Homo sapiens: one gene and its partners. The protein of the gene in region 1 purifies or fractionates together with the protein of each later gene. This does not show direct contact. Each region holds a gene or a part of one and is shown on either strand. Other genes may lie near its edges.

Evidence for each region.
Region 2: the proteins of OS9 (region 1) and LONP2 purify together in Homo sapiens (affinity purification with mass spectrometry; 3 studies listed by BioGRID and IntAct, with this or other methods). This does not show direct contact.
Region 3: the proteins of OS9 (region 1) and CERCAM purify together in Homo sapiens (affinity purification with mass spectrometry; 3 studies listed by BioGRID and IntAct, with this or other methods). This does not show direct contact.
Region 4: the proteins of OS9 (region 1) and SERPINA1 purify together in Homo sapiens (affinity purification with western blotting; 4 studies listed by BioGRID). This does not show direct contact.

Annotation. Positions count from the first base shown.
Region 1 is NC_000012.12:57,689,525-57,697,147, forward strand, and holds the start of OS9 (protein OS-9 isoform 1 precursor), read left to right. Parts: upstream 1-4,607; 5' UTR 4,608-4,637; coding exon 4,638-4,799; intron 4,800-5,225; coding exon 5,226-5,402; intron 5,403-6,255; coding exon 6,256-6,319; intron 6,320-6,437; coding exon 6,438-6,514; intron 6,515-6,750; coding exon 6,751-6,849; intron 6,850-7,623. UniProt on the Homo sapiens protein: Lectin component of the HRD1 complex, which functions in endoplasmic reticulum (ER) quality control and ER-associated degradation (ERAD).
Region 2 is NC_000016.10:48,345,277-48,352,299, forward strand, and holds part of LONP2 (lon protease homolog 2, peroxisomal), read left to right. Parts: exon of another isoform or gene 1-1,635; intron 1,636-2,230; coding exon 2,231-2,438; intron 2,439-2,823; coding exon 2,824-3,014; intron 3,015-6,304; coding exon 6,305-6,526; 3' UTR 6,527-7,023. UniProt on the Homo sapiens protein: ATP-dependent serine protease that mediates the selective degradation of misfolded and unassembled polypeptides in the peroxisomal matrix.
Region 3 is NC_000009.12:128,415,879-128,423,865, reverse strand, and holds the start of CERCAM (inactive glycosyltransferase 25 family member 3 isoform a precursor), read right to left. Parts: upstream 3,010-7,987; 5' UTR 2,989-3,009; coding exon 2,792-2,988; intron 2,663-2,791; exon of another isoform or gene 2,355-2,662; intron 2,344-2,354; exon of another isoform or gene 1,080-2,343; intron 999-1,079; coding exon 888-998; intron 721-887; coding exon 603-720; intron 1-602. UniProt on the Homo sapiens protein: Probable cell adhesion protein involved in leukocyte transmigration across the blood-brain barrier. Does not express any beta-galactosyltransferase activity in vitro.
Region 4 is NC_000014.9:94,385,603-94,393,499, forward strand, and holds the start of SERPINA1 (alpha-1-antitrypsin precursor), read right to left. Parts: upstream 3,001-7,897; 5' UTR 2,958-3,000; intron 1-2,957.

The DNA of each region.
Region 1 (7,623 bases):
TTTCCCTAAAAAATTTGAAGATATTTTATATTATTTTCTAGCTCCCAATGTATTTTTTCTTTTTTAAGAGACAGGGTCTCACTCTGTCACCCAGGCTGGTGTGCAGTGGCGTGATCATGGCTGACTGCAGCCTTGACCTCCTGGGCTCAAGCAATACTCCCACCTCAGCCTCCCAAGAAGCTGGGATCACAGGCACTCGCTACCATGCCCTACTATTTTTTTTAAATTTTTTTTTGTAAAGATGCAGTCTCCCTATGTTGCCCTGGCTGGTCTCAAACTCTTGGGCTCAAGTGATCCTCCCATCTTGGCCTCCCAAAGTGCTGGGATTAGAGGAGTGAGCCACCACACTCATTCCTCCCAATGTTGATGAGTTTGTAAGCCCAATGCTGTTCTGATAAGGAATCAATTAAATACAATTAAAAATTTTATTTTTGTGTGGGCACACAGTGGTGTATATATGTATATATTTATGGGGTACATGAGATACTCTGATACAGACATGCAATAAGTAATAATCACATCATGAAAAATGGAGTATCCATCCCCTCAAGAATTTATCCTTTGTGTTACAAACAATCCGATTATACCCTTTTAGTTATTTTAAAATGTACAATTAAATTATTATTGACTATAGTCACCCTGTTATGCTATCACATACTAGGTCTTTTTCATTATTTCTATGTTTTATACCCATTAGCCATCCCCACTTCTCCTCAACCCCACACTACTCTTCCCAGCCTTTGGTAACCATCCTTCTACTCTCTATCTCCGTGAGTTCAACTGCTTTGGTTTTTAGCTCTCACAAATAAGTGAGAACATGCTAAGTTTGTCTTTCTGTGCCTGGCTTATTTCATATGACATAATGACCTCCAGTTTCATCCACGTTGTTGCGAGTTACAGGATCTCATTCTTTTTCATGGCTGAATAGTAAGTACTCCTATGTGTATACGTACTACATTTTTTTAAATCCATCTGTTGATGGACACTTAGTTTGCTTCCAAATTTTAGCTATTGTGAATGGTGCTGCAACAAAAATGGGAGTACAGATATCATTTCGATATACTGATTTCCTTTCTTTTGGGTATATACCCATCAGTGGGATTGCTGGATTGTATGGTAGCTCTATTTTTAGTTTTTTGAAGAAATTCCAAACTGTTCTCCATAGTGGTTGTACTAATTTACATTCACACCAACAGTGTACGAGGGTTCCATTTTCTCCACATCCTCTCCAACATTTGTTATTGCCTGTCTTTTGGATAAAAGCCATTTAAACTGGGGTAAGATGATATCTCATTGTAGTTTTGATTTGCATTTCTCTGATGATCAATTATGTTGAGTACCTTTTCATACACTTGTTTGCCATTTGTATGTCTTCTTTTGAGAAATGTCTATTCAGATCTTTTGCCCATTTTTAAATCAGATTATTAGATTTTTTTTTCTTTTGTTTGTGCTCCTTATATATTCTGGTTATTACTCCCTTGTCAGACAAGTAGTTTGCAAATATTTTCTCCCATTCTGTGGCTTGTCTCTTCACTTTGTTGTTTTCTTTGCTGTGCAGAAGCTTTTTAACTTGATGTGATCCTGTTTGTCCATTTTTGCTTTGGTTACCTGTGCTTGTGGGGTATCTCAAGAAATTTTGCCCAGGCCAATGTCCTGGAGAGGCTCCTCAATGTTTTCTTGTAGTAGTTTAATAGTTTCAGGTCATAGATTTAAGTCTTTTTTTTTTTTTTTTTTTTTTTTTTTTTTTTGAGACAGAGTCTCGCTCTGTCACCCAGGCTGGAGTGCAGTGGCGCGATCTCGGCTCACTGCAAGCTCGGCCTCCCAGGTTCATGCCATTCTCCTGCCTCAGCCTCCCGGATAGCTGGGACTACAGGTGCCTGCCACCACACCTGGCTAATGTTTTGTATTTTTAGTAGCGACAGGGTTTCACCGTGTTAGCCAGGATGGTCTCAATCTCCTGACCTCGTGATCCACCCACCTCGGCCTCCCAAAGTGCTGGGATTACAGGCATGAGCCATTGCGCCCAGCCAGATTTAAGTCTTTAAGCCATTTTGATTTGATTTTTATATATGGTAAGAGATAGGGGTCAAGTTTTATTCTTCTGCATAGGGATATCCAGTTTTCCCTGTATCATTTATTGAAGAAACTGTCTTTCCCCCAGTGTCTGTTCTTGGCACCTTTGTCAAAAATGAGTTCAATACAGATATATGGATTTGTTTCTGGATTCTGGATTCCATTCCATTGGTCTGTGTCTGTTTTTATGCCAGTACCATGCTGTTTTGATTATTATAGCTCTGCAGTATAATTTGAAGTCAGGTAATGTGATTCCTCCAGTTTTGTTCTTTTTGCTCAGGATAGCTTTGGCTATTCTAGGTCTTTTGTGGTTCCATTCTAGGTCTCTTAGGGTTGTTTTTTCTATTTCTGTTAAGAATGTCATTGGTATTTTGATAGGGATTGCATTGAATCTATAGATTGCTTTGGGTAGCAATGGTGTTCTGATTCTTAATCCTAATGTTATACTGATTTTTAAAAAATGTATTAACAAAGCAACAACATGAAGTCACATGTTCTGATTTTTTTTGTCTGTATATGCAACTTGTTCTTTCTCTCTGGAAGCTTTTAGAATTTTTTTCTCTGTGTCCAGTACTCTGAGATTCTATAATGATGTGTCTTGGTGTGGGTTTGATTTGTTGTTCTGGATACTTAGGGTGCCTGTTCAATTTGGAGACTGTTCTTCAGTTTGGGATAGTCCTTTTAAATAGTTTTTTTGATGATCTCTTCTGATTCTCTGTTCTCTTTCTGGAACTCTAATTTAGAACTCTTATTTAGTCCAGACCTTCTGGACTGATCCTTTATTTTTATGTTTTCTCCTAAAGCAGAACAAATTTGATCTTCTTCAACTTTATCCCCCAGCCTTTTTATAGAATTTTTATTTCTGTAACATGGTTTTAGTTTCCAAGAGCTCTTTTTGCTTATCCGAATAGTAGTTACTCTCAAGTAGTTTCCTGTTGTTATTTTATGAATGCTCTATAATATCTCTTTGAGAAGTCTGATGATGGATTATTTTTAAATGCTTTGTTGTTTCAGACGGAGTCTAGCTCTGTGGCCCAGGCTGGAATGCAGTGCCGCAATCTCAGCTCACTGCAACTTCCGCCTCCCAGGTTCAATCAATTCTTCTGCCTCAGCCTCCTGAGTAGCTGGAACTATAGGCGCGTGCCACCATGCCCAGCTAATTTTCGTATTTTTAGTAGATACGGGGTTTCACCACGTTAGCCAGGCTGGTCTTGAGCTCCTGACCTCAAGTGATCCGCCCGTCTCGGACTCCCACAGTTTTGGGATTACAGGCGTAAGCCACCGTGCCCGGCCTATTTTTAAATTTTTTATTTTTAGTGTTTTTTCCCCTCCCTTGCAATTTATGTTTCCTCTCATTTGCTTTTCCCTTCTTGTTTGTTTCTTACTTGTATATTAAAGTCCTTCCTTAAATGTCTAATGATCTCTGGCTATTTATTTTGAAGAGTAAGAACACTAAAAAGCTGATTGGAAAGTGGAATGAGGGCTGGGGCACGTAGGCCAAAGTGTTACATGTGGAATTCATTCTAGTTATCTATATCATTAAGAGAACTCTGATAAGGGTATCTTTGGGATTTTTCGTTTTGGCTGGTGAGATTCCCCAGAGAGGGTTTTCCAAAGGTATAATCAGCCTCTTGTTTACCTTTGTTTCGTAATAAATATTCTCAAGTTTGCTAAACCAGTTAACATTCTTCTGTTTGATTTCCAGCTTCCAAAATGTTGCTGTTGTTGTCTCCTTTCCCTTTCTTACGGCCTGGAGAGTAATACATAATTTCACCTTAACTGGAAGCCCATGTATGCATGTATGTATGTATGTATGTATGTATGTATGTATGTATGTATGTACGTACTTATTTGAGACGGGGTTTCGCTGTGTTGCGCAGGCTGCACTTGAACTCCTGGGCTCAGGAGATCCTCCTGCCTCAGCCTCCGGAGTAGCTGATACCACAGGTGCGTGCCACCACGTCTGGCTGCCCGCATTATTTCTCTAGGATTTTTACTGGAGGTCATTTTACTGGAGGTCAACTGCAGGATCGTATAGGAAGGTTTTGACACAAATTTTCTGATTGCCTCAAAGCAATATGTATATATGAAAAGAGGTAAGCGTCCGTATAATAATTGTTTGTTTTGCAACAAGCATTTAATAACTTTCACCGGCACTGCGCACGCTACCTATCTGCCTCAATACTCCGCCCGGCGGTGGGCAGGATATAATGCAAGAGACGTCTGAAAAAGCAATGAGATGCGCATGACAGCTGGGCGAAGACAGAGGGCAAACTTAAAAGGACCAAGCGCATAGACCACGCCTCTGAAATTGGGGAACGAGGAGGGGTTTGATCTTGTCGATGATTGGCTGGTCTCTGACCAATCACGGACAGCGATTGATATTTCTAATCGTCGTGATCCACCTCCCCAGGACCTTGGAGCCACGTTTACAAATAGGAATAGGGTACGTGGGAGGGATAGAACGTACAGCCAATAAAATCATGTGGCGCCGATGGGCGTGTTGAGGCCGCTGCCTGGCTTAGGGCGGAAACAGATTCTCTGCATAAGAAGGGGAACGAAAGATGGCGGCGGAAACGCTGCTGTCCAGTTTGTTAGGACTGCTGCTTCTGGGACTCCTGTTACCCGCAAGTCTGACCGGCGGTGTCGGGAGCCTGAACCTGGAGGAGCTGAGTGAGATGCGTTATGGGATCGAGATCCTGCCGTTGCCTGTCATGGGAGGGCAGGTGAGAGGCGTATAAGGGGCGAGGGTCTGGGCAGAAGAGGAAGCGGGTAAGAGATAGAGGAAGAAGGGCAGCTCCGGAGTCTGGGGCTGGAGCCTACGGGGAATCGGGAAGAGTAGGTATTGCTTTTACGGTGACCCCTGGGGGTCGCAGACTGAGACCAATTCTCTGGGGGCCAGGAATTGGGAGAGGTGGGGCTTCCCGCTGTCAACCTTCAGGTCTCAGTTTATGATCGAAACACCCGGACTCCGCCCCCGTGGAGAAATGGGAGCGCCCTCTCCTCTCACCCACTAAATACAGCTGGAGGGCTTATGGCTTATTCTGTCTTCGACTGATCTCTTCCCCAGGGTTTGAAGAGGGATTTCGTTGTTCTCCCTGATCCCAGCCTTTCTTTGCTTCCTTGCCCCCCGACCCTCCCTTCTTTCCCAGAGCCAATCTTCGGACGTGGTGATTGTCTCCTCTAAGTACAAACAGCGCTATGAGTGTCGCCTGCCAGCTGGAGCTATTCACTTCCAGCGTGAAAGGGAGGAGGAAACACCTGCTTACCAAGGGCCTGGGATCCCTGAGTTGTTGAGCCCAATGAGAGATGCTCCCTGCTTGCTGAAGGTGAAAGGGACTGGGTTAGATAGAATGAGGGCTTGGAAACTAGCAGTTCATCCAAGAACTGGAGTCCACTGAATGAGGCAGGATCTAGGGGACCTGTAGTGGTTAAGAAGACCACTGGAGGAGTAGACAGATTACACGGACAGGAAAGAAGCAAAGAATCCTGCAACCACTGATGACACTTTGCTGAACGTAGGAGCAGGTTAGGATAGAAGATCTCAGAAAAGGGCTAAAGCAAGATTGAGGGTCTGCGTGGGGTAGGAGGAGTACTTCCTTAAGCCTACTTGCTAAAGTCACCCCCTGCCCTATCACTCTGCTCCAGTATCCTGTTTTATTTTCATCGTAGCACTTTTCATGATCTGAAATCATATTTACTGAATCAGTTTGTTTATTTTCGGTCTGATTCCCCGCATTAGAGTGTAAACTCCATGAGGTCAAAGAATTAATCTTGTTCACAGTTGTATTCCCAGTGGCCAGAACAGTGCCAGGAATGTTCAAGAAGTTCAATTAATATTTAATTTTGGGTTCTTCTATGTTTCCCTAATATAATTGCTTCAGGGATACCATAATTTCTTATCTTTATGGAGGGCAAATAAGGATTTAAAAAATCTTTTAAAAGGGAGGAATGGAAAGACCACAAGTGGAAAACAGACTTTAGAGATATCTCTCCAAGTCACAGAAGGAAAGCAGCCCTCCCTCCTTACTGAAAGTCTGGAGAATTGAGAGTGGAAGTGAAGGGAAGAGAATTGAGTGTGTAAGTAGATGAGAGGTTATGTGTCTTGGAGCCAGGAGACTCTGGTTCCAAGAAAAGATGTCTGCACTCCATCCCCCTGATTGTTTATTTTTTAATTGTCAGACAAAGGACTGGTGGACATATGAATTCTGTTATGGACGCCACATCCAGCAATACCACATGGAAGGTAACTCACTCCTATATTTTCCTTAAGCCCTTAGTGTCATATCATGGAAGTTCCCCAGTTCCCTCCTCCTCCTCCTCCTCTTAAGAGTAACAGTGCTTCACTGTGGCTTCCCTTGCAGATTCAGAGATCAAAGGTGAAGTCCTCTATCTCGGCTACTACCAATCAGCCTTCGACTGGGATGATGAAACAGCCAAGGTGGCAAGAGTGTGGGATTCAGGAAGAAAGGGTTCTGGCCACCGGCTGAGAGCCCTGACAAGAAGGGGAGGGTCAAGATTAGCTGATCTGTTTCTTGGGGCTTGGTGGCCATTAGGACAAAGTTTCCTGGGGCCTGGGGGCACAGGCCATTCTTTTGTCTCTTTGGGGACGCAGTGCCATCCTTCCTCTTTGCTATCTTTCTCATGTCCCCCATTCCTGCCTCATGTCTTCTCCAGGCCTCCAAGCAGCATCGTCTTAAACGCTACCACAGCCAGACCTATGGCAATGGGTCCAAGTGCGACCTTAATGGGAGGCCCCGGGAGGCCGAGGTTCGGGTGAGTCTTGAGAGAGGGAAGTTGACACTCCCACAGGGACAGTTCAGATTCTAAGGGAAGAGGGTTGCATCTTATAGTCGGGGCGGGGGCGGGGGGGGTCCCCTCCCAGACCCTAAATCCAAAGTTTAAAACATATTTCCAGCCGGGCGCAGTGGCTTATGCCTGTAATCCCAGCACTTTGGGAGGCCGAGGCGGGCAGATCACCTGAGGTCAGGAGTTCAAGACCAGCCTGACCAATATGGTGAAACCCCATCTCTACTAAAAATACAAAAATTAGCCGGGCGTGGTAGCGGGTGCCTATAGGCCCAGCTACTCGGGAGGCTGAGACAGGAGAATTGCTTGAACCTGGGAGGCGGACGTTGCAGTGAGCCGAGGTCGTGCCACTGTGCTCCAACCTGGGTGACAGAGTGAGACTCTGTCTCAAAAAAGAAAAGAAAAAAAAAAACCCACATTATTTCCAGGCCGGGCACGGTGGCTCACGCCTGTAATCCCAGCACTAGATATCTCTCAAAACTCTCCTATGCTTTCTTGTGGTCGGTACCTTCACTCTCGCCTGCATCCCTGCAAACAGCTTCTTTACAAGTGCTTCTCATCTAGTGGTCCTTAGCTGAGTGGAGGCAGGCAAATATAGAATGCAAAAAGTTCCTTGGGTGATTCTCATGTATTCACAAATATACACACCTGTAAAGAATTACATGACACCTGCCAGAGTTATCTTTCCATAATGCAGATTTGTACCTGCAGTTGTGTGCTGGTAAGTGTTGGACCCCCAGA
Region 2 (7,023 bases), on another chromosome or scaffold:
TTGGTATTATTTTGACAAATGAATTGTGAGGATTCAAATATAAGAAAGGGATTATTCTTGGTAGAGTTAACAAAATTGTACCAAATGACTTTTTGTGTTAAACACGATTCATTCACCCAACCCTAGAAAGGAGCCTGAATGAAGTCTAATTTGGGTGACAGATTCCCACACAAATTAGATGTATGTCATTCAGGTATAGAGAATTGATTTTATATTAGAAAAAACAAACCTTGTAAACAGTTTTATAAATAACTGTTTCATGATTTTCCTTAAGTAGTACTGATCTCTTACATATAGATCGTTTGTGTCTTTCGCCTCAAGTTAGTATAGAACAGGGCAAGTGGCAAAGCTCGAGGAAAGTGTGACCTGAGGTACATGCTGTCAGCTTGATGCTGGAGTTTGGCCTCTCAAATCTCTAACCTGTTAAATGAAGTTAATTAGGATTAATTTTTTTTAATGTATGTTTACTACTGAAAATAAGTGCTCGGCCAGACGCAGAGGCTCACGCCTGTAATCCCAGCACTTTGGGAGGCCGAGGCTGGCAGATCACCTGAAGTCAGGAGTTTGAGACCAGCCTGGCCAACATGGCGAAACACTGTCTCTATTAAAAATACAAAAATTAGCTGGGTGTGGTGATACATGCCTGTAATCCCAGCTACTCGGAGCCTGAGGCAGGAGAACTGCTTGAACCCAGGAGGCGGAGGTTGCATTGAGCCAAGATTGTGCCATTGCACTCCAGCCCAGGCGACAGAGTGAGACTCATGTCTCAAAAAAAAAAAAAAAAAAAAGAGGAAAAGAAGTGCCCAATAGCTTCAATGGATGCCACATAATTTTGGAATAATTTTTACAATCAGGAATTTCATTGTCCAAGCCCCTTAGAAAAAGAAGCAACCCAGCCCCATACCCAGAAAGTCAAGCTGTATAGTGCTGTTCCTTAGTGAGACGGTCAACTCTCAGTAGAAAAATCTCCTGTTTGGATTAGTGCTTAGTTGACCTATTGTGTTCAGTTCCTCTAACATGAGTAACTTCTATTGGATAGGAAATTTTGAAGCTCAAAGGGTGTAATGAGAGTTAACATTACTGATTTTCCACTGTTACTTTTTAGTGTTTTCATAACTTGGATGTGTTAACCTATGGCCCATCAACTATGCTCCTAGTCTCAGGTGACAACATGTTCAATTTAAGATGGCAGGCAGTACAGTGGACCTCTCTCATCCCATGGGAAGGAACCCAGGATGTTTATTATGTAGTATTGTATAGTCTCTGCAGCAGTAATAGAGAAAGTTAAAGGTAAGCGGTGGAGAAGTAAAATCTAGAGTTTCTAATATAACCCTTCTCACTTTTCTTTTCAAAAAAAATAAGAGGGTCTCACCATGTTGCCCACACTGGTCTCTATCGAACTCCTGGGCTCAAGCGATCCTGTCGTCTCAGCCTCCCAAAGTGCTAGGATTACAGGCATGAGCCACTCTGCATGGCCAAGCTCACTCTTCTTAAAGGTCTGCTAGTAAGAGGGTTTCTACTTTTTGAAACAAATTCATGATTACCTAAAATGAAGCTAGGTTATGAAGTATATATAAATATGCAGCCCAATAGGCTGGGTGTGGTGGCTCACACCTGTAATCCCAGCACTTTGGGAGGCTGAGGCAGGCAGATCACTTGAGGTCAGGAGTTTGAGACCAGTCTGGCCAACATGGTGAGACCACATCTCTACAAAAAATACAAAAATTAGCGGGTGTGGTGGCCTGTGTGCGCCCATAGTACCAGCCACTTGGGAGGCAGAGGCAGGAGAATCACTTGAAGCCAGGAGGCAGAGTTTTCAGTGAGCTGAAATTGTGTCACTGTACTTCAAGCCTGGGCAATGGAGTGAGACTGTCTCAAAATATATATATATTTGCAGCCCAATAAAGATACTTAGATAAAACTATTGGGTTTATTCCTTGAAAACTAGGGCATGTGTAGCTAGATCTGGCTCATAAAAAGCAAAGTTATTTACATATATTTTAAGGTAAAATTGCCTCTGATAAATGTCAAAGAGGAAGTTTAGGTCTTTCTTCTGGCAGAAAGCCAGAGAGTAAGTGCTGAATGTGACGCAGAATCATGTTAGGTAACAAGGACTTTGAGGTAAGTGGCTGAAGTCTTCTGTGGAGTCAGCCGACTCTTGCAGGATTGTGTGGTATCAGTCACCTTTAGCATTTGCCAACCCAACTCTGATCATTCTTCTTCTTTCAAGGTATCTCAGCGTTTGAGTCAGCCAGGAGTAGCAATAGGTTTGGCTTGGACTCCCTTAGGTGGAGAAATCATGTTCGTGGAGGCGAGTCGAATGGATGGCGAGGGCCAGTTAACTCTGACCGGCCAGCTCGGGGACGTGATGAAGGAGTCCGCCCACCTCGCTATCAGCTGGCTCCGCAGCAACGCAAAGAAGTACCAGCTGACCAATGGTAGGAGCCTGCACCCGGCCAGGCAGGCGTGACCCAGGAGGCGGTACCTTCCATGGCGGAGACTGGCATGAGCTCGAGACTGCCAGTTACACATCTAGCAAAGTACACACCGTTTTGAACCCCTGTGGAAATCCTAGTTCCCATTTCAGGACTATTTGACTAGTGCCTGAACTAGAAACTAATTCAAAAGGTTTATTTTGTTTTAATACGACTTAGAGTAGAATGGAACTGTTCTTCCACACCCTCACCCAAATTGTACTGTCCACCAATATTTTGAAGAATTCATTTACCCAAAACATTCATTTTTGTTTGTGACTTTTTTTTTAGGAGAAAAAGAAAACAGGTTTAATTTTTCTACATTAAAGTCCCTTTTTCCTTTTTAAAGCTTTTGGAAGTTTTGATCTTCTTGACAACACAGACATCCATCTGCACTTCCCAGCTGGAGCTGTCACAAAAGATGGACCATCTGCTGGAGTTACCATAGTAACCTGTCTCGCCTCACTTTTTAGTGGGCGGCTGGTACGTTCAGATGTAGCCATGACTGGAGAAATTACACTGAGAGGTCTTGTTCTTCCAGTAAGTATGAAAAAACAATTTATATGGTTATTTTTTATTTAATTTTTGAAAATTAATATTATTTTTAAATACGGGTTTGCCTTCTTTCTATGAAAACCTTGGTTTTAAGTATATATTATATTTTTATGCCTGTAACTAATTCATATTTTAAAATTTTGATCAAATAAAAGAAAAACTGACAATTTTTCACATTTTCCTTTTTTTTTTTTTTTTTTTTTTGAAATAGACAGGTCTCACTCTGTTGCCCAGGCTGGAGTGCAGTGGTGTGACTGTAGCTCACTATAGCCACCAAGTCCTGGGCTCAAGCGATCCTCCTGTCTATCTCCCGAATAGCTGGGACTATAGGAGCACGCCACCATGCTCAGCTAATTTATTTTATTTTGCGTAGAGACAGGGTCTCTCTGTGTTGTCCAGGCTTGTCTCAAACTCCAGGTCTCATGCAGTCCTCTCATCTCCACCTCCCAAAGTGCTGGGATTACAGGCGTGAGCCACCACATTCAGCCCACGTTTCCCATTCTAAGATTTGCTAAGGGAAAAAAATATTAGTGTGGTCATCAGAAATATTGGCAGTTACATGAAAATTTGAGGCCTTGTTCTACTTGACAAATTGTTAAAGATATAGCACATGTGCAAAATGGGATAGTAGTTGTTTTTAAGCTTTAAGCCCATTTCTTAAATTTGAAGTTTCTTTGAGACCTCCTGTCCCCCTGCAGAAAACTTTGCTAGTATAGAATGGAAACTCTAATAAAGATTAACCATATCTAATGACTACATTTTGAAAAGGTTCTATACATGTGGGGTCTTGAGGCTCCAGATCCTAAACTGCTTATAAAAATAGTGTGATAAAATGTACAGAACTTGAGAGTATTTAAAGTTGTTAGTTGAGTATTAGTCTACAACAGACTAGACTACAATTTTAGTCCACAACAAGATTTTGGCAGGTTCATAGCAAGATGAGGAAAAAAAAAAAGAAATAGTCTTTTTTTCTTTTTTCTATCGAGATGGAGTCCGGCTCTCTTACCCAGGTTGGAGTACAGTGGCACAATCTTGGCTCACTGCAACCTCTGCCTCCCAAGTTGAAGTGATTCTCCTGCCTCAGTCTCTCAACTAGCTGGGATTACAAGCATGCGCCACCACGCCCGGATAATTTTTTCTATTTTTAGAACCTCCATAGAACAAATGGGTTTTCTACTTGGTCCCCTCTCAGAGCAAATCGTAGCCCAAGTAAAGGCTTCTGCAGCCTCAGGAGAGACAGCCACAGCGGCCTGGGGTACACCTTCAGCTCCAGACCATTACAAGAGGCAGGATGGAAAGCAGCAGCACTTGAAAGAAAGGCCTGTGAAAGCTGGAGAAAACCTCCTTTGAGAACAGAGGACAAGACGGGGCTTTGGGATTTGAAAGTGGTCAAAGAATTATTCAGGAAAAAACTATAGTGAAAAACAATTTGTTGTTAGAACTCCAACATCTAAAAGGAGTTCTAACAAACAGGAAAATGGAATGGAACAAATTATCCAAGAAATAACTGAACATTTCCTAGAAGTTAAGGCATCTTGAGATCGAAAGGACCATTACTAACCAGGAAAAACATTTCATCCCCTTGACTTTTCAGATTACTGAGGATAAAGCGGCCTCAGCACTGACACTGGATGTGCAGTACCTTCAAAACTATGAGGGAAAATGGGCCAGGCGTGGCAGCTGACGTCTGTAATCCCAGCACTTTGGGAGGCTAAACAGGAGGATAGCTCAAGTCCAGGAGTTCAAGACCAGCCTGGGAAATATATCTCTACAAAAATTGTTTTAAAAATAGTAAGGAGGCTGGGTGTGGTGGCTCACGCCTGTAACTCCAACACTTTGGGAGGCCAAGGTGGGCGTATCACTTGAGGTTAGGAGTTTGAGACCAGCCTGGCCAACATGGTGAAACCCTGTCTCTACTAAAAATACAAAAAAATTATCCGGATGTGGTGGCGCATGCCTGTAATCCCAGCTACTCAGGAGGCTGAGGCAGGAGAATCGCTTGAACCTGGGAGGCAGAAAGTTGCAGTGAGCCAAGATTGTGCCACTGCACTCTAGCTTGGGTGACAGAGTAAGACTGTCTCAAAAAAAAAAAAAATAGTAATGAAAGCTGTGAGGGAAAATGTTTTACATCTAGTCTTGTATACATGGCCTTAGTATCAATCAAGTGTGAAAGTAAAATATTTTCAAACATGCAAGGAATCAGTTCATCTTACACTCTTTTGAAGAAGGTACTTTGAAGGAGTACTTCAGCAGCATGAACAAAACCTTGAAAGAAGATGCCAGTGGGGCGGGAAGGCCTGGAGCAGCCAGCCAGTCTTAATTGGAGCAGATGCAACACATTACCCCAAAGCAAGAATACTCCATACTCTTCAAGTTCCTGTGGGCCAGGAATTCAGGAGAGGCTGAGCTGGGTTCTTGTGGCCCAGGGTCTCTGGCCTTACAGTCTAGGTTCCAGCCAGGCTGCAGTCACATGAAGGCTGACAGGCTGGAGAAACTGCTTCCATGGTGGTTGACTCATGTGACTGGCAAATTGGTCCCATCTAGTGGCAGGAGGCCCCAGTTCCTCACCTGATGGACTTGCCCATAGGCTGCTTGAGTGACCTCAGACATTATGACTGGCCACCTCCAGGGCAGGTGATCAAGAGAGATTCAGGCAGCAGCTCTCGTTTTTTGTGACTCAGCCGTGGAGATCATACAGCATCACTCCCACCACACTCTGTTTCTTACCGAGTCACAAAGCCTGGCCCACATTCAAGCAGGGGGACCATTGTAGACATGTTTGAAAGCCACCATAGGAGCCTAGTTTAGGGATACATTTTCTTCATTAACCAGCATGGAGGTTCTGGCTTTAAACCTGTAGAGAGGGAAGTAACCCCAGCACACAGCTAAGCTCTGCAGGAGCGGCGCTCATGGTCAGAATCACGTGCTGCTTTTTCAGATCAACCTAAAGACTAGACGGTTGTGATTACACCTGAATGCCAATTTACTTTGACAGCATTTATAAAAACAATCATTGACAGAAGAGGAACTCATACCTATCAACAATTTAGAATCCCCCTCATCAGAGTCTTTAATATAACACCAATTGAAACATTAAAAAAAGGTTACTACTTATCCTTTTTCCTGGCTTTCCTAGCTCATGCTATAACAAAACGGAAGATGATTTGGATGTTTTAAAATAGTAGTGGTTAAATTCAGTGAAAGAAAGCTGGGTCAGGGTTTCTTTCAGCTTGAGGGTGATCATTAACCCTAAAAACTTTTTTCTCTCCTTACAGGTGGGTGGAATTAAAGACAAAGTGCTGGCGGCACACAGAGCGGGACTGAAGCAAGTCATTATTCCTCGGAGAAATGAAAAAGACCTTGAGGGAATCCCAGGCAACGTACGACAGGATTTAAGTTTTGTCACAGCAAGCTGCCTGGATGAGGTTCTTAATGCAGCTTTTGATGGTGGCTTTACTGTCAAGACCAGACCTGGTCTGTTAAATAGCAAACTGTAGGTCCAAATCTCAATTTTTTAGAATTTTAAGTTATGAAGTGCTCAAAGGTACTGACACAGTTGATTTTATTCACACCATTAGGGGTATGCAAGATGTCCCTGTTTTATAAACATAATCACAACAGTAATAAACCTCAAGTAGTGGCTAGTGTTTAGTATAGAAATATAAGATGTTGATTTAGTAAACTGATAAAAATCGAATTCTTGTCTTTTTAGTGGGATCCTTACTGTCCCTGGAAAGATATAGCATAGTGGTTCTCAGCACAGTCTCCAGAACAGAAGCATCTGTAGTACCTGGTAACTTGTTAGAAATGTACATTCTCAGGCTCCACAGCAGGCCGCCTGAATCAAATCCTGGGAGGTGGGGACAGAAATCTGTGTTTTAAGAAGCCTTCCAGGTAATTCTGCTGCACACTCAAGTTCAGGAACCACCGGTATAGACCATTACCTTAGTGGATTTACCTGTAGAGTTTATTGGATCCTGAAACCAATCAATTA
Region 3 (7,987 bases), on another chromosome or scaffold:
CTGAGCTCTAGTTCAGAGATCCAGGCTCAATTTATACCCTGGGCTCTAGCCCAGAAATCGAGGCTCAGTAAAGTGTATACAACGGGATCTATCTGAGGGGTCCAGGCTTAGTACCTAGTCTGAGCTTTTAACATAGGGATCCAATCTGAACATCTGGTCTGGGCTCTGGCCCAGATAGCCTGCCGAAGGATCCAGCCTTCGGGTGGGTCAGTCACATTCAGATTTCTTTTTCTTTTTTTTTTTTTTTTGAGACTGAGTTTCACTCTTGTCACCCAGGCTGGAATGCAGTGGCATGATTTCAGCTCAGTGCAACCTCTACCTCCCAGGTTCATGCCATTCTCATGCCTCAGCCTCCCAAGCAGCTGGAATTACAGGCGCCTGCGACCACGCCCAGCTAATTATTGTATTTTTAGTAGAGATGGGGTATCACCATGTTGGCCAGGCTGGTCTCGAACTTCTGACCTCAGGTGATCCACCTGCCTTGGCCTCCCAAAGTGCTAGGATTATAGGCGTGAGCCACTGCACCCAGCCTATACCCAGATTTCTATCAGGGACGGATACTACCGCCTTTCAGAAGCCCGATTCTAGCCAGACTTCCTCACCAGGATATAGTCGGCCCCCCAGTTCCTGGCAAAGGTGAGGGCTTCCTGCTTCAGCTCCATCAGAAACTGGTGCCTTTCTTTGGTCCAGTGCTTGGGACCCTCTTCATCTGGGTAGAACCTGAGGGGATAGAGGTGAGATGTTCCCATGGGGTACATGCCCCTCCCTCTCTGCAGGGCAGTGGACAGAGCCCTGGCTTGGAGGCTGTGGCTCTGGGCTGTCCCTTTTCCTCTCTGGGCTGCAGCTGTTCTCCATCTTCCCCAGCACCCTTCCCCTCAGATCACCACCTGGGCTCGCCCTCAGGCCTCCAGACCACAGCAGCATAGTCATCGCCCACAGCCGCCAGCCACTCCTGCAGCATCTCTGTGGTGTTGTCCACATTGTGGTCCGTGGCACACCTGGGGACGGGAAGAAAAAAGGCTGAGGGGGCACAGCCACAGGATTGAACCCCAAGGCAGCCTTGACCCCAAAGCACTAACACCTTTGAGGTCGAGCTCTCCTTGGAACAGTGAAGGGTAGGTGTGCTACAGCAGAGAGGCTGGAGGCAGCACAGCCAGGTCCCCACCACAGTTCTGTGACCTGCTGTGTGACCTCAGGCAAGTCCCATCTTTCTCTGGGCTTCACGTCCTCCCTCTATAACTTAAGCTGTCCTGCTTATGTCATGGACAAAGATAAGAGAAGAATAATGCATTTTTTTTGAGATGGAATCTTGCTCTGTCGCCCAGGCTGTAGTGCAGTGGTATGATCTCGACTCACTGCAACCTCCGCCTCCCGGGTTCAAGTGATTCTCCTGCCTCAGCCTCCTGAGTACCTGGGATTACAGGTGTGCACCACCATGCCCGGCTAATTTTTGTTTGTTTAGTAGAGATGGGGTTTCACCATGTTAGCCAGGCTGGTCTTGAACTCCTCACCTCAGGTGATCTGCCCACTTCGGCCTCCCAAAGTGCTGAAATTACAGGCGTGAGCCACCACACCTGGCCAACGAATGCATTTTGAAAGATGAAAAGTACCTCGACTTTAAGGATCACACCTGGTGCATTCCCTGGTTACCTTCGTTAGGTGGGCAGATACCTACCTATGTGACCTGTGGCTGTGTGACCACAGGCCAGCCCCTGTCCCTCTCTGAATGGGGACTAGACAGAAGAGCTGCTGCTTTCCTCCACCCCCAGGTTGTAATAAGGACCAAACCATGCTCTAAGCGTCCCTAAGAATGCAGATGGGTCCAAGCTCTGCTGTCATGGGGCACAGCCTCCCCTCTCCTGGGGAAGGGGCCCCCATAACAGAGGTGGGGGTTTAGCCAAGTGCCCAGGTTTTGGGTGATGCTGCCCCTTTAAGCCAATTCCCCAGAAATGAAGACTACGTGTCAAGTCTTACAGGGGTGGGAACTAACAAACTCCCAAACTGTGGTAATTGTGGGCGGCCTCCCCAGGCCAGGGCTCCACCCCCCCAGCCCAACTGTGGTGTGTTGAAGAGGGTGGCTTGTCATTTTTCTCAGTTTACCCCCAACCTCAGCCAGGGACTCCTCCCTGTTCTGGTGTCTACAGACCAGGGGTTGTGGCCTTCGATCCCAGTGCCCTGGGGGTACAGAGATGCCAGAGGGGAGAGGCTCCAGGAAGGGGGACTGCCCTTGGCTGACAGGATCCCGCCCCTCTACCAAGATCTACCAAGAGAGCTGGCCCCAGCACGGGGGCGGTGGGGGGGCCGGTCTGACTCCCCTGCACAGCCCGGAGCCCAGTGCTGATGGCACCCCCAACCTGTGCCCGGAAGCCTCCAGCGTGGTCGATCCCTGCCACGTTGGGCCCCAGTGGACTTCAGAGGTTCCTGTCTGCTCCTCTTCAAATCCAGCCAACCACAGGTCCCACTGGGGTTGAGCTGGGCCCTGAAGGCTGGGGTGAAAAGGGCTGGCTGGGCCCAACCTACACCCAGGGAAGGCCCCAAGAGGAAGGAGTAGGGGACCAGAAGGAGGGGTGGGTGTCCCGCGTCGGCCTGTGGCCTCAGAGGTCTGTCGTCTCCCAGCAGGGGGCTCGGGGTCCTCTCTGGCGGCTCGGGCTGGCAGGGCCGTCTGTGAGGGGAGGGGCCTGTCTAGGTGGTGTCTGGGCAGGGAGCGAGCAGACAGGGCCGCCGGGGGCGGGGGCCATCTGCGAAGCTGGGGGTTAGGTGCCCACTCGGTGCCAATGCCCGGGTCTCTCACCAGAGGGCCATCCTGGCCCGGGGGTAGTCCAGCCGCTCCAGAGCGCCCAGGTAGTGGGGCAGCGAGTGTTCGGCATTGCGGGCCAGGATGGCAAGGACCACGGCGGGCAGCGGCGACTCCGCAACGCCCGCAGCCTCCAGCCACGGCCCCAGCAGGAGCAGCAGCTGGAGCAGCGGCGCGGCGCGGGCAGCGCGCATGGCGGGCGCTTGGGCGGCTGCAGCGGCCCCCGGAGCTCTCGGGCCGGCCGAGGGGAGGGGGCGGGGCCTGGGGCCCGGGCGGGGCCGAGGCAGACCCGGAGAGGGCGGGGCAGTGCACCCTCAGAGTGGGATCCTGCTCCCCACCCCTGTGCGTGGATGCTCAAGTTTTCTCTCCTTGGCCCGGGGCACCGGAGGGCCAGGGCCCGGGGACCCGCGCCAGCCGCGACCCTGGAGCAGCCCCGCCCGGCTGGACCCCGGAGGGGCGACGGCGGAGGGGCCGGAGGACCGGACAGGGGAGGGGTGCTAGGACGAGTGCGTCGGGGCCGGCCGGGCGTCCGAGAACAGTAGGGGCTCATGGAACCCCTGGGCGTTGAACCCCCGGAATCCGGATTCCCCGGCCCACGCAGCCGACTCTTCGACCTGAGCCGCAGACCCAGAGGGGCGGCGCCCACTCGGCCACCACCTCCCGGGCTTCCCCGGCTCCCGCCCCATCCTCCGCCCCGGGCGCCCTCTGGCGGCCCTGGCGCTAGCTCCGCAGACCAGCCGGGCCACGCGTGGGCCGGAGACCCAGCGTGGGGGGCGCAGAGGGAGTCCCCCTGAGCTGGGCGCGTCCTCCCGCGGCGGTCCGCTCCTTAAGTCCCCTGTGCGTCACCTCCTTGCGTCGGTCGCCAGCACCCGCATTGCTTCGGCCCTTTAAGAGAGCACAGCCAGGCCGGGCGTGGTAGCTCACGCCTGTAATCCCGGCACTTTGGGAGACCGAGGCGGGAGGATCACCTGAGATCAGTTCAAGACCAGCCTGGCCAAGATGGTGAAATCCCATCTGTACTAAAAATACAAAAATTAGCCGGGCGTCGTGGCGGGTGCCTGTACTCCCAGCTACTTGGGAGGCTGAGGCAGGAGAATCGCTTGAACCCGGGAGGCGGAGGTTGCAGTGAGCCGAGATCGCGCCACTGCACTACAGCCTGGATGACAGACCGAGACTCCGTCTCAAAAAGAAAAAAAAAAAAAGAGCACAGCCCTCACAGCCCTCTCTTGGTCTGAGTGTAGAACTAGGGGACACCACGGAGCTGCTCACTGCGACCCGACCCGTCCGTCCTCCAAAGCAGGGGATGTTGGCTCCCCTGGAGCACCGCCGGGGTCCTTAGGACCCTGCTGGGAGGGAAAGAACTCTGCAGCCTCTCGGGAGAGGAGCAGAAAAGGGAGCGGCCTGGCGGCACCACAGATGGGATCGAACTGGGTGTCTGTCACCAACCTCAGACAGGTCCCTTTCCCTCAGGAGCCTCTCGGGTAAAATCGGGCTGATAACGCCACCCATCTGGGAGGGTTTGCAGGGATTCCTCGAGAGAATGAATGCACTGGCAGCTTTTCCCGCGTGGAGGCTTACACACAGGAAGAGCTCCGCCCTGGGGCTGGGAAGACAGGACTGGAGGAGAGGGAGGCTCCCCCTTCACCCTCCCACCGCTGGGAAGATCTCCTTTCCTAGGAACAGCACGGGGTCTCCCTTCAGCCTTTTCCCAGGGTCAGGGAGGGGAGCCAGGGCTGTGCACACTATCTCCACTGCAAGGGGAGGGCTGAAGGTCCATAGAGGAAGGAACTTACCTAGTGCAGGGGCAGCACGTGCGCACTGAACCCTGGAGTCCTGATCTCTAGCCTAGCTCAAAGCCTCCACCAGGATCGGGTGGCAGCTTCCATTTGAGGCCATTTCTAGGCCAGCGGCCCTGCAATGAGAAGCATTCTGGAGAGATGCCAGATTTCTTCTCCCTTGCACGGTAGTCCCCTGCGGGAAGCCACTCCCAGCCCCAGAAGAGGGATTCCCTTTCTAAAGCAAAGCAGTGTTCCCTACTTCACCCACCCCAGAGTCATTCCACAGCCTCTGCCTGTCCTATTGGTCCAAGGGTGCTATGGTCAGAATGTCCGTGACCCTCAAAACTCACATGTTGAAAACCTAATGTTAATGTCAGGGTATTAAGAAGCGGGGCCGGCACGGCGCGGTGGCTCGCGCTTGTAATCCCAGCACTTTGGGAGGCGGAGGCGGGCGGATCACGAGGTCAGGAGATCAAGACCATCCTGGCTAACACGGCGAAACCCTGTCTCTACTAAAAAATAGAAAAAAATAGCCGGGCGTGGTGGCGGGCGCCTGTAGTCCCAGCTACTCAGGAGGCTGAGGCAGGAGAATGGCGTGAACCCAGGAGGCGGAGCTTGTAGCGAGCCGAGATCGCGCCACTGCACTCCAGCCTGGGCGACGGAGCGAGACTTCTGTCTCAAAAAAAAAAAAACAAAAAACAAAAAACAAAAAAAAAAACAGGCGGGGCCTTTGGGAGTTGATTGGGTGGGCTGCCCCACCTGAATGCGGCTAGTGCCCTTATAAAAGAGGCCTGGGGGCCGGATGCGGTGGCTCACGCCTGTAATCCCAACACTTTGGGAGGCTGAGGGGGGTGGATCATGAGGTCAAGAGATCAAGACCATCCTGGCCAACATAGTGAAACCCCATCTTTACTAAAAATACAAAAATCAGCTGGGTGTGGTGTCGCGTGCCTGTAGTCCCAGCTACTCAGGAGGCTGAGGCAAGAGAATCGCTTGAACCCAGGAGGCAGAGGTTGCAGTGAGCCAAGATCATGCCACTGTACTCTAGCCTGGCAACAGAGCGAGACTCCGTCTCAAAAAGAAAAAAGAGGCCTGGGGAGCTTGTCAACCCCTTCTGCCACATGAAGACACAGCTAGAAGGCCCCAGGTATGAGGAACGGGCCCTTACCAGACACCAAATCTGCTGACGCCTTGACCTTGGACCTCCCAACCCCCCAGAACTATTAGCAATAAATTTCTTTTTTTTTTTTGGCCAGGGGTTGGGGGGTGGTTCAAGCAATTCTCCTGCTTCAGTCTCCTGAGTAGCTGGGATTACAGCCACACACCACTATGCTTGGCTAATTTTTTGTATTTTTAGTAGAGATGGGTTTTCACTACGTTGGTCAGGCTGGTCTCGAATTCCTGACCTCAGGTGATCCAGCTGCCTCAGCCTCCCAAAATGCTGGGATTACAGGTGTGAGCCACTGCACCCGGCTGATAAATTTCTGTTGTTTATACATTATGCAGTCTAAGATATGTTGTTATAGCAGCCCAAACGGACTAAGACAGGGGGCTTCCTGATTCTTCCCTGGCCTCAAGTCCTCCTCTTCCCCCAAGTCCTCCCACCCTCCCCAGGAGTCCAGCCTGTTACTAACTTTCTTGCCTCAGAGTTTTCCCATCACACCTGCCTGGAAAACCCAATAGCCATCTTGTTTTGGGGCAGGTTGGGGCAACTGCAAACTCAGGGTCTCTACCCTCACTTGGGCTCTCACCCAGCCCAAGAATCCTGTTTCCCTGTGTCCCCTGCCCACTCCCCTCAGGGCATTTCAAATGCTTCTAGTCATTGAGGCACGGTGGCTCATGCCTGTAATCCCAGGACTTCGGGAGGCTGAGGTGGGCAGATCACTTGAGGCCAGGAGTTCGAGACCAGCCTAGGAAACACAGTGAAACCCTGTCTCTATTAAAAATACAAAAAAAGGCCGGGGCAGTGGCTCACACCTGTAATCCCAGCACTTTGGGAGGCTGAGGCAAGTGGATCACCTGAGGTCGGCAGCTCAAGACCAGCCTGACCAACATGAAGAAACCCCGTCTGTACTAAAAACACAAAATTAGCTGGGCATGGTGGCGTGTGTCTGTAATCCCAGCTACTCAGGAGGCTGAGGCAGGAGAATCACTTGAACCCAGGGGGGCAGAGGTTGCAGTGAGCCGAGATCGCGCCATTGCATTCCAGCCTGGGCAACAAAGGCGAAACTCCGTCTCAAAAAAAAAAAAATAGTAATAATACAAAAAAAAATTAGCCAGGTGTGGTGGCACATGCCTGTAGCCCCAGCCACTTGGGATTCTGAGGCAGAAGAATCACTTGAACCTAGGAGGTGGGAGTTGCAGTGACCTGAGATCACGCCACTGCACTACAGCCTGGGTGACAGAGTGAGATTCTGTCTCAACAAAACAAAACAAAACAAAACAAAACAAAGCCTCCAGTCTTCTCAAGCCCCCATTCCACCGCCCCTCTCCCCCAGCAAAGATCTCTCTACTACTTTTTGGAGAAAATAGAAGCCATTACCTGGGAACTCTCATTTCTAGCCTCCAAACCTTCCACCTCTGCCCTCAGCCAGCCTCAGGAGGCACACCCCTCCTCAACAGAACGGCCCCTGTGAAACCGCCTTTGCAAATTTGTAACTCAGGAAATTATGACAGCGGAACAAATCAGACCTAACTGATTCTGTCTTGCTTCTAACCCTTAAGCTGTCCTTGTTCACTCCTGGGCGTAGGCTGAACTAACTTTGGGAAGGAATTCAGTTCATGGTTTGACTCTGAAACAAAATTTATAACAGCCCTTTCCCAAAAAGACCCTTCTTCTTGCCTGGGGTCCAGTCTGCCTTTGCAGGACTGGCAAAGTAGCTATAAGATTAGAAATTACAATTTAGGGGTCATGCAGCCTTTGGGTCCTCCCCAAATTGCTCCTGGGGTAACATCACTATTGTAAAACCTAAAGTCAGTGCTTGAGATATTCTGCAGACCCTGCACCCGATGGATCAGCTGACACCAGCCAGACCAGTAATCTGGCCCAACCAGTTCTACCATCGCACCCAGGAACAGAAGACATTAAGAATACCTAACTTCCACCTCCTATGATTCCATCTCCAATCTGACCAATCAGCATTTTCCACTTTCCAAGCCCCTACCTGCCAAATTATATTTAAGAACTCTGATCCCCACATGACTGGGGAGAACCGATTTAAGTAATAATAAAACTCCGGTCTCCCGCACAGCCGGCTCTGTGTGAATTACTCTTTCTCCTTTGTAATTCCCCTGTCTTTTTTTTTTTTTTTTTTTTTTTTGAGACGGAGTCTCGCTCTGTCACCCAGGCTGGAGTGCAGTGGCGTGATCTCGGCTCACTGCAAGCTCCGCCTCCCGGGTTCACACCATTCTCCTG
Region 4 (7,897 bases), on another chromosome or scaffold:
AGGCGAGAGCCCCTGCACCCAGCCAGGATTCTTGGTTAGAATGGCATCTGGGTTCAATGTAGCAAAACAGATGGAGAATTCCCATGGCTAGGCATGAGACAGGTGCCCTCCTAGACAGGGGAATTCTGGGCTCAAAGGAGGTGGAGAGGCTGGTGCAGGGAGGGTGGCGAGGGGGTGACAGCTGGGAGGAGCACATTCCCCCACACCCATCCATCTTTCCTGGTGTCACATCACCTACTCTGGTTTCCTCCTTTCACAGTGAAGAGTTTGAAGCCCAGAGAGGGTCAGGGCCTTGTTGAGGCTATACAGCAAGTCAGTGACAAAGCTGGAACAAGTCTTGGCTTTCCCAGCACTCAGATCATGAACTGAGACAGCTGTGTCCTCAGATCTCAGATGATGAATGTCAGAATTGGGCTGTGACATTGGTCTCAAGCATCATGTTGGGTTCATTATGCCTCCCAAGCTGTTCCTTATAACATCAGGACTCCAAAACCTGCTCTCTCCTGGCCCTTCTATCAGAGGCAGCACCCTGCACTCCTAAAAGCTAGTGCCTGGGAGGGCGACTGGAGAGGAGAAAGTCGCCATCTGGCCAAGTACCCCATGGTGTACGGACACTGAGGCCAAGCTTTAAACCAAAAGAATGAAGGCTTCATGGTGACATTTCTGGGATCGGGGCAGGTGGGAGCACTCTTTGCGGGGCCAGGGACAGGGAAGCGAGCCACTCCCTGCCTAATCTCACACCATTTCTACCCGGGAGCATAAAATAAGGGACCAAGAGCAACCCGGCAGGGTGCAGGGAAGAGAATCTCGCCTATGGTCAAACAACCTGTTGAACTGGGCAATAAATAAACCCAAGTGTGACCAGGCCCTGTCACTTACTGGCAGGGGGCCTGGGGTAAATGACTTCACTTCTTTGAGCACTAGCTTCATAGCTGTACAATGGAGAAAAGAATCCTTTGGACAGGGATGAGGAATAACTGACGTAATGCATGAGTGGGCACCAGGTGAGGAAGCCCTCCCTGTACCTGCACACAGGTTGAGCTCCTGCCCGAGAGATGGTAGATTTCTTCCCGGAGAGCCTGCTGCACTCCCCAGGACCATTTCAGCAGGAAGGGGCTCCTGCTCAGCAGTGAACAGCATCTGAGTTTGGCAAATTTTCCATTAAATTATCCAACTGTTTACTGCCTGCCAGCTGCCTAACCCTATGCTAAGCAAACATCAGCCTCAGCGTCACCATCATTGCCACACTTACTAACACCTGGTGTTTTACAGGCACCGTATCATCTAATCTGTCCTCAAAGCTTACCCTATAAGGTGCAAATTATTAGCCCTATTTTATAGATAGAAAAATTGAGCCCCAAAGAGCATTAAATAACTCACTAAAAATCACAGAGCTACTTGCTTACAAAACTGAGATGTAATCCTAAATGTTTTGTCTGGGATTAAACAGATTTCACTCCAAAACCTGACATTGAATCATCTCTGTGTACAAAGCTGAAGCCAGAAGTCTTGAATCAGAAAACTTCAGAGGCAGCCTGGCTAAATGAAGAGGGGAGCATCAGTCTGTGGCTAAAATTAAAGGCTCTGAGGCCAGATTGCTCCACGTCAACTTGCTATTAGCTGTGTGACCTTGGACAAGTTACTTAACCTCTCTGAACCTCAGTTTCCTGGAGATGAGAAAGGTGGACTTTGTCATAGAGCTATTGTGAAATTAAATACACATAAAATGCCAAGAAGTGCCTGCTGCGCAGCAAGTTCTCGAGAATACCAGTTCTTGCTGCTATTGCTGCAGGTCTTTTAGAGGCGTTCTATAGGAAACTGGCCACCTTGGCCTTGGTCATCTTTTTGACCTGTCTCCAAAACTCAGTGCAGGAAAAATTAAATCCTTCCAACACTTCAGAGATCAAGGTCGGGTGGGGTGAGGGGAGGGGACAGAAGTCAAAGGTTATCATGTTTTGCCCAAGAGAACAGAGAGGTTGAGCAACTGTCTGAAGTCACCGAGCATCAGAGAGGCCTCAAGTCCAGCCCAGGTTTCCTGTTCCCCATCCAGCGCCTGAGACCCAAGAGAAACAGTGACACTAGGGCCAGGTTCAAGAGTTTGGGGACTGGAGCCAGGTGCCTGAGCCCGAATTATGGATGGTGTGTGATTTGGGGCCAGTTATTCACCTCTCTGTCCCCATCTTCCTCATCTGTAAAATGGGAATCACACTAGTAACTGCCTTGGAGGGTTATGAGGCTTAATCACGCACTGAGCTTAGCCGTGGCCTGGTGCAGAGCGATTATTCAGGAATGCCAGCTTGAGCCCTGGGTGACAGTGCCCCTCACAGCTTCCTGTCCTCCACTGGGACAGGAGGGCCCAGAGGTCCACGGTGCATGGGGAGGCCCATTTTGATGTAAGGCTGAGGCCTGGCACAGGTCTGTTCCTGGTCATATCTGGAGGGGATGGAGAATGTGAGCCGGCGTTCCTCCCCACCCCTCTCTGGACCTTAACCTCCTCATCTATAGAAGGGGAGAAAGATGCATGCCCAAGCAGTAGGAGAGGTGGTGAGGCTTATAGGAGACAACAGACAGGAGCCCCCGACAGACAGAGGAGCTGTGCAAACAGAAAGAAATGGCTGCGCTTTGTTGCTGTTGCTGTATCTTGGCTGGTGTCCCCCATCCTGGGGTGCCAGGACTGCAGACCTAGACACCCTCATCCACTTCTGCTTACAGGAACCAGTGTATCCACCAGGAGGTACCGAGGGGGGACCGGGCAGGACTGGGAAACAGGACACAACCCTCATGGCTGCTGTTATTATGAAAATAGGAGCTCAGCTGCAGCCTCTCCATCTGCCCTGCACCTCAGCAGGCGGATACCCACTCCACAACCCCCCTCCTGCCCCAGACCTGCTGCCTGCCTGGGCCATGGGGAGCTCAGAAGCCTCTCCAGAACCTCTCGCAGTGAAAGGCATACTTACGATTCACTGTCCCAGGTCAGTGGTGGTGCCTGAAGCTGAGGAGACAGGGCCCTGTCCTCGTCCGTATTTAAGCAGTGGATCCAGAGGGGCAACGGGGGAGGCTGCTGGTGAATATTAACCAAGGTCACCCCAGTTATCGGAGGAGCAAACAGGGGCTAAGTCCACTGGCTGGGATCTGAGTCGCCCGCCTACGCTGCCCGGACGCTTTGCCTGGGCAGTGTACAGCTTCCACTGCACTTACCGAAAGGAGTCATTGTACCTGGCTCAGAAACCACAGCGTCCTGTGTCCAAGGTGGAGGGGGTGGCGTGAGTCAGACAGTCTCTGGGAGAGTACCACTTAGCTGGCCCTCTGCTCTCACTGCAGAATCCTTAGTGGCTGTTCCACTGGTAGCAAGATCTACCATTTACTGAGTCACCCCAAAATGCCTGATGCTGAAGACTTACTGCCGCCCTGGGAGATCAGAGTGGGTTAGAGCCCATTTGACAGATGAGGAAACAGGCTCAGAGCGGAGAGACCGCTCATCCAAAGTTACCCAGTCAGCCTTAGACACAAACACCCTCTTGATGGTCCCGATGGAAAAATGGAGCATGACTGAGGCAGACACAACCGTCAGGCTGGCATGGGGGGCCGTGAGACAGGGTAGAGGTGGGGAAGCACATCTGTAAAGAAGAGCTGTGCTGCCTCAGGCAGGCCGCTTCACCTCTCTGAACCAGGAACTGTTTCACCTGCATCCCAAAGAGTTGGAAGTTTCATTCCCAAGCATGCTTGTGAAGTGCCTCGGGTGAAGTGCCTGGCACACAGTAGGCTCTTTATGTGGGTCTGCACAGCCCTCTGCTTAGTCTGCCCCCCAGGCTGCTCAGAGCAGGAGGAGGTTCAATTTTGACCAGCCTCAGGCCTGTTTCTGTTTTTGCTCCTGGAAAACCAGTGTGATCCGTATACAGCTTGGAGTTTCTTTGGATACATGGCCCCCACTCTGGGGTTGTTGGAGGCCTTTGGAGACTGCTGGGGGTGGAGGGGAGGGGAGGTACAGGGTTGAGGCTAGTGGGGCCCCACTTGATTGCAATCCCTTTAAAAGCCTAAATCAGATTGCATCGCCCGCTGTGCAACCCGCAAACCTGCTTGGGAGCTGGCGTACGTGCCGTAGATACTTGCAGAGTGAATGGATGAGTGCATTTTTGCCCCTTCTGTCATTCACCAGTCCCATTTATGCCTCCACCTTGGGGCTCTACCAGGCGAGTGACCCACAGGATCCTCCAGCACACACATTCAGACCAGGGAACCCACTTACTGGCTGTGAGGCCTCAGGTGAGTTGTTTAACCGCTCCGAGCCTCAATTTCCCTATCTGTAAAATGGGGATGGTGACGGTATGTACCTTGTTGAGCTGCTGTGAGGATTAAAATGCAACAGTTCAAGGAAAGCTCAGAGACGGGTACTGGGTGTGCCCAGAAAGCCCCTCCTGATGCTGCCCTCCCTCCCCCGTGTCAGGGGCTGGTGTCACTGGGGTGGGGTGGGCCACACTTGAAGAGCTTTCCTCCAGGCAGTCTCTCATTCAGTTACCCTGTGAAGGGAGTAGGTACCACCCTCCTTTCAGGCAGCGGGAAACTGAGCTCAGACTCCCCTCCCCTTCTCTCTGAGCTCCCTTCCCTGCAGCTCCATCCCCTGGCTTCAGGGCCCCTGTCCTTCCCCTGAGCTGGCTGAATGGATATTCCGCTGCTCTACATCCACTCACAGCTCCAGCACTGGGCTGTGGTTGAGGTCGCCTGCCCTCGGTAGCTCCTGGGCATTTCTTCCCCTCTCTGGGCCTTTGTTTTCCCATCTGCACAATGACCCCCACTCTAAGCCCTGCTGTCCCTCCCACCTGTGGAACTGAGTGAGCAGCAGCAGCAATGTCCCACCTTTCCTGCTCTCCTCAAGCTCTCCTCAAGCTCTGTCTCTTCTGGCAGGCACAGGAGAGTGGCCTGAAGGCTGGCAGGAGGTTGCCGCCCCTCCAACCTGGAATTCCTGGCAGCAGCAGCGGCTAGGCCTTCCTCGGAGGCCCGACCCCCTCCTCCTTCTTGGTTCAGCTCAGGACTCTGAGGGTTGCTGCGTGGAGGCAGTGCATGCCCTGGGCACAGTGCCCAGTTCCTGCCCACCCAGGAAGTAGACTTCGGGTGGAGGCAGTAGGCTGGGGAGGGGCGGGGAGCTTGGACAGGAAGGAGCCTTGCTCATTGCCCGGCAGACACAAGACTGGGCCCTCATAAACTCAGACAGCCCGGCATGTCACCTGTTGTACCTGCCCTTTCAGCTCTGTGACCCGGGACAAGTCACCCTCTCCCTTTGAGTTGCCGCAAGAGGTACAGTCACACTGCCCAGAGGATTACTAGAAATGACAGGCCTCGCCCTCCTGGCACAGACCTGGCACCAATAACTGGCAGGTTTCTGGGGCCAGCTGCAGAGGGAAGAGGACTGAGCCACCTATGAAATGCCCAGTGGGCAGCCCCACAGTTGGGCAGGTCTGTGTGCACTGGGGAGGTGTGTGTCATAGGACCTGGCTGGGTGCAGAAGGGATTGCAGTGGGGAGCTGGGGCTTTTGGAGGAGGAATGAAGAAAGCATGGGTGGGAGCAGGTGAGGCAAGTAAGGGGCTCAGAATTTGGGGTCCTGCTCTTTTGGCAGGGCTCTAGGCTCAGCCCCCGCCCTGCTCTGGACATCCATCCTGGGAGGAAGGGCTAGGATAATCTGGAAAAACGCACCAGGACAAAATCCCGGGGGTTGTGGTGGGAGGGGTGGGAGTACTCAGTGGCCATTCACAAGGATACTGTGCCCCCAGGAACCCCAGGACATGAGGGGGAAAGTCTTGTCCACCTGGTTACTTCCACAATTGTCTATTGCAGCATCTGGGCTGATCCCCCCAGAGGAAATGCATCATGGGAAGATCCTGTGAGCTGGTCATGAGTAAGGGGCATCTGGGGGAGGCCCTGCCCCACCACAGGGCCCTGCCTGGAGATGGGAGCCTCGTGGTATGGGCTGGATAGGGATGTGAGAGTCGAGATTTGGGGTCTGCAGCAAGGAATCGGGTAAGGGGGTGAGGTGTGCCAGTGGCCCTGGGCCAAGTAAATCAAGACTGAGTGGCTGGTCAGGAGAACAACAGTGGACTTCATGGGAGCTGAACTCATTGGCAAAGTGCCCCCGGAGAGTGCTGGCCACCCCACAAACACACACACCCCATGCACACCCTCACTATGCACCCTCCTTCCCAGGCACCAGCTTCCTTCTTTGAGAGTCAGTGCAGGTCACTGGTTAAGGCGTGGGTTCGGGATCTAATATCTGGGGCCAAGCCTTAGCTCCATCGCTCTTTTTGTGAGCTCTTAGACAAGCCACTTAACCTCTCTGTGCCTCGGTTTCCTCATCTGTGAGATAGGAAGACTCTAAGAAGAGTCACTTCCATCAGGACTGTGAAGATCGAATGAGATAATAACATTTAAGCACTTCGGGCAGCCTCTGGCATGTGATGGGCCCCAAGTCAATGCTAACCACCAAAGGCCATGACCTTTGGGGATGTGTCCTGGCTCTGAAAAACCATATAGATGGGTCTCAGGGGTCTAAGTGGGGGAACAACTGCTGCGTTTGGCCCCAGATTTGGGGAGCAGCACCTGTTGTTGAGGGACACCTCCTCAGATTCAAACTTCCATTTTTTCCAGAAAAGGCTGTCAATCCCCTCTTTAGGGGCCGTGCTCATTTTGGCTTTCCGAAGGTGAAGGGCCAGGTGCCTTCAGCATCTTTCTGAGCACCTGTGACATGCAGAGGATGTGGGGTGACTGCAGCTAGGTGGACTTGGATCCGGGGGAGGCCCTCAGTTCTCTGAGCCTTGGTTTCCTCATCTATAAAATAGGGATAAAAGTTTCTTTCCCACATAGCTCTTCTGAGGCTTAGATGAGGCGATGCTGGTGGGGTGTTTAACACAGAGCTCTGTTAGCATAATGGACACTTGTGTCTGTCTTCTTATAACTCATTTAATGAATGAATGAAGTTTGCACCATTTTTTCACCTCCTCCAGTCACCTTTCAAATTAGCCAACTTGCAAAACCCCAGCAGACACACTTTCCTTCTGTGTGTAATCTCCTGAGCCACTTCCTGTGTGTTGGGGAGGGGAGGGGGGATTTCTGCATTTTCTGGAACTATGTGGCCTACTCACAGCTTCTTCTTTTTTTTTTTTTTTTTGAGACAGAGTCTCACTCAGTCACCCAGGCTGGAGTACAGTGGCGCAATCTTGGCTTACTGCAAACTCCACCTCTCGAATTCTGGAATTACGAGCGATTCTCGTGCCTCAGCCTCCAGAGTAGCTGGCATTACAGGCATGTGCTACCAATTCCAGTTAATTTTTGTATTTTTAGTAGTGACAGGGTTTCACCATGTTGGCCAGGCTGGTCTCAAACTCCTGGCCTCAAGTTATCTGCCCGCCTCGGCCTCCCAAAGTGCTGGAATTACAGGTGTGAGCCACTGTGCCTGGCCTTTACTCTTTATCCTTACTCAGACAGAGAAAAATAAGGCAAAGCTATACATTATAAGGGGCAACATAGTTAAAAGAAGGAATAAAAATGCATCTATAGCTTCATCCCCTTCTTGTTAAAATTACTAAAACTCATGTTTTATTGCAGCTAACCTTTTCTGAACTTTATTTTAACTTTACTCTTTTGAGGTTATGGGCCTTGATGGTCATTACGGATTGGAAGCTTTTAAGAGACTCAATGTGTCCTATTGAACTATAATTATGATTTGATTTTAGATGGTCAACTTGTCGCATTTTGGTCAATAGGAACCCTTTTAAGTTATCTCTTTATCCCTTTGACAATCTCTGCTGATGTTTCAGCAACACACACTTGCTTTCTGGCAAGGCCACCATGTTCATGTTCCAGGTCTGTCTTCATTTTCTCTTGCCCCAAGACATGGCACTGGGGTAT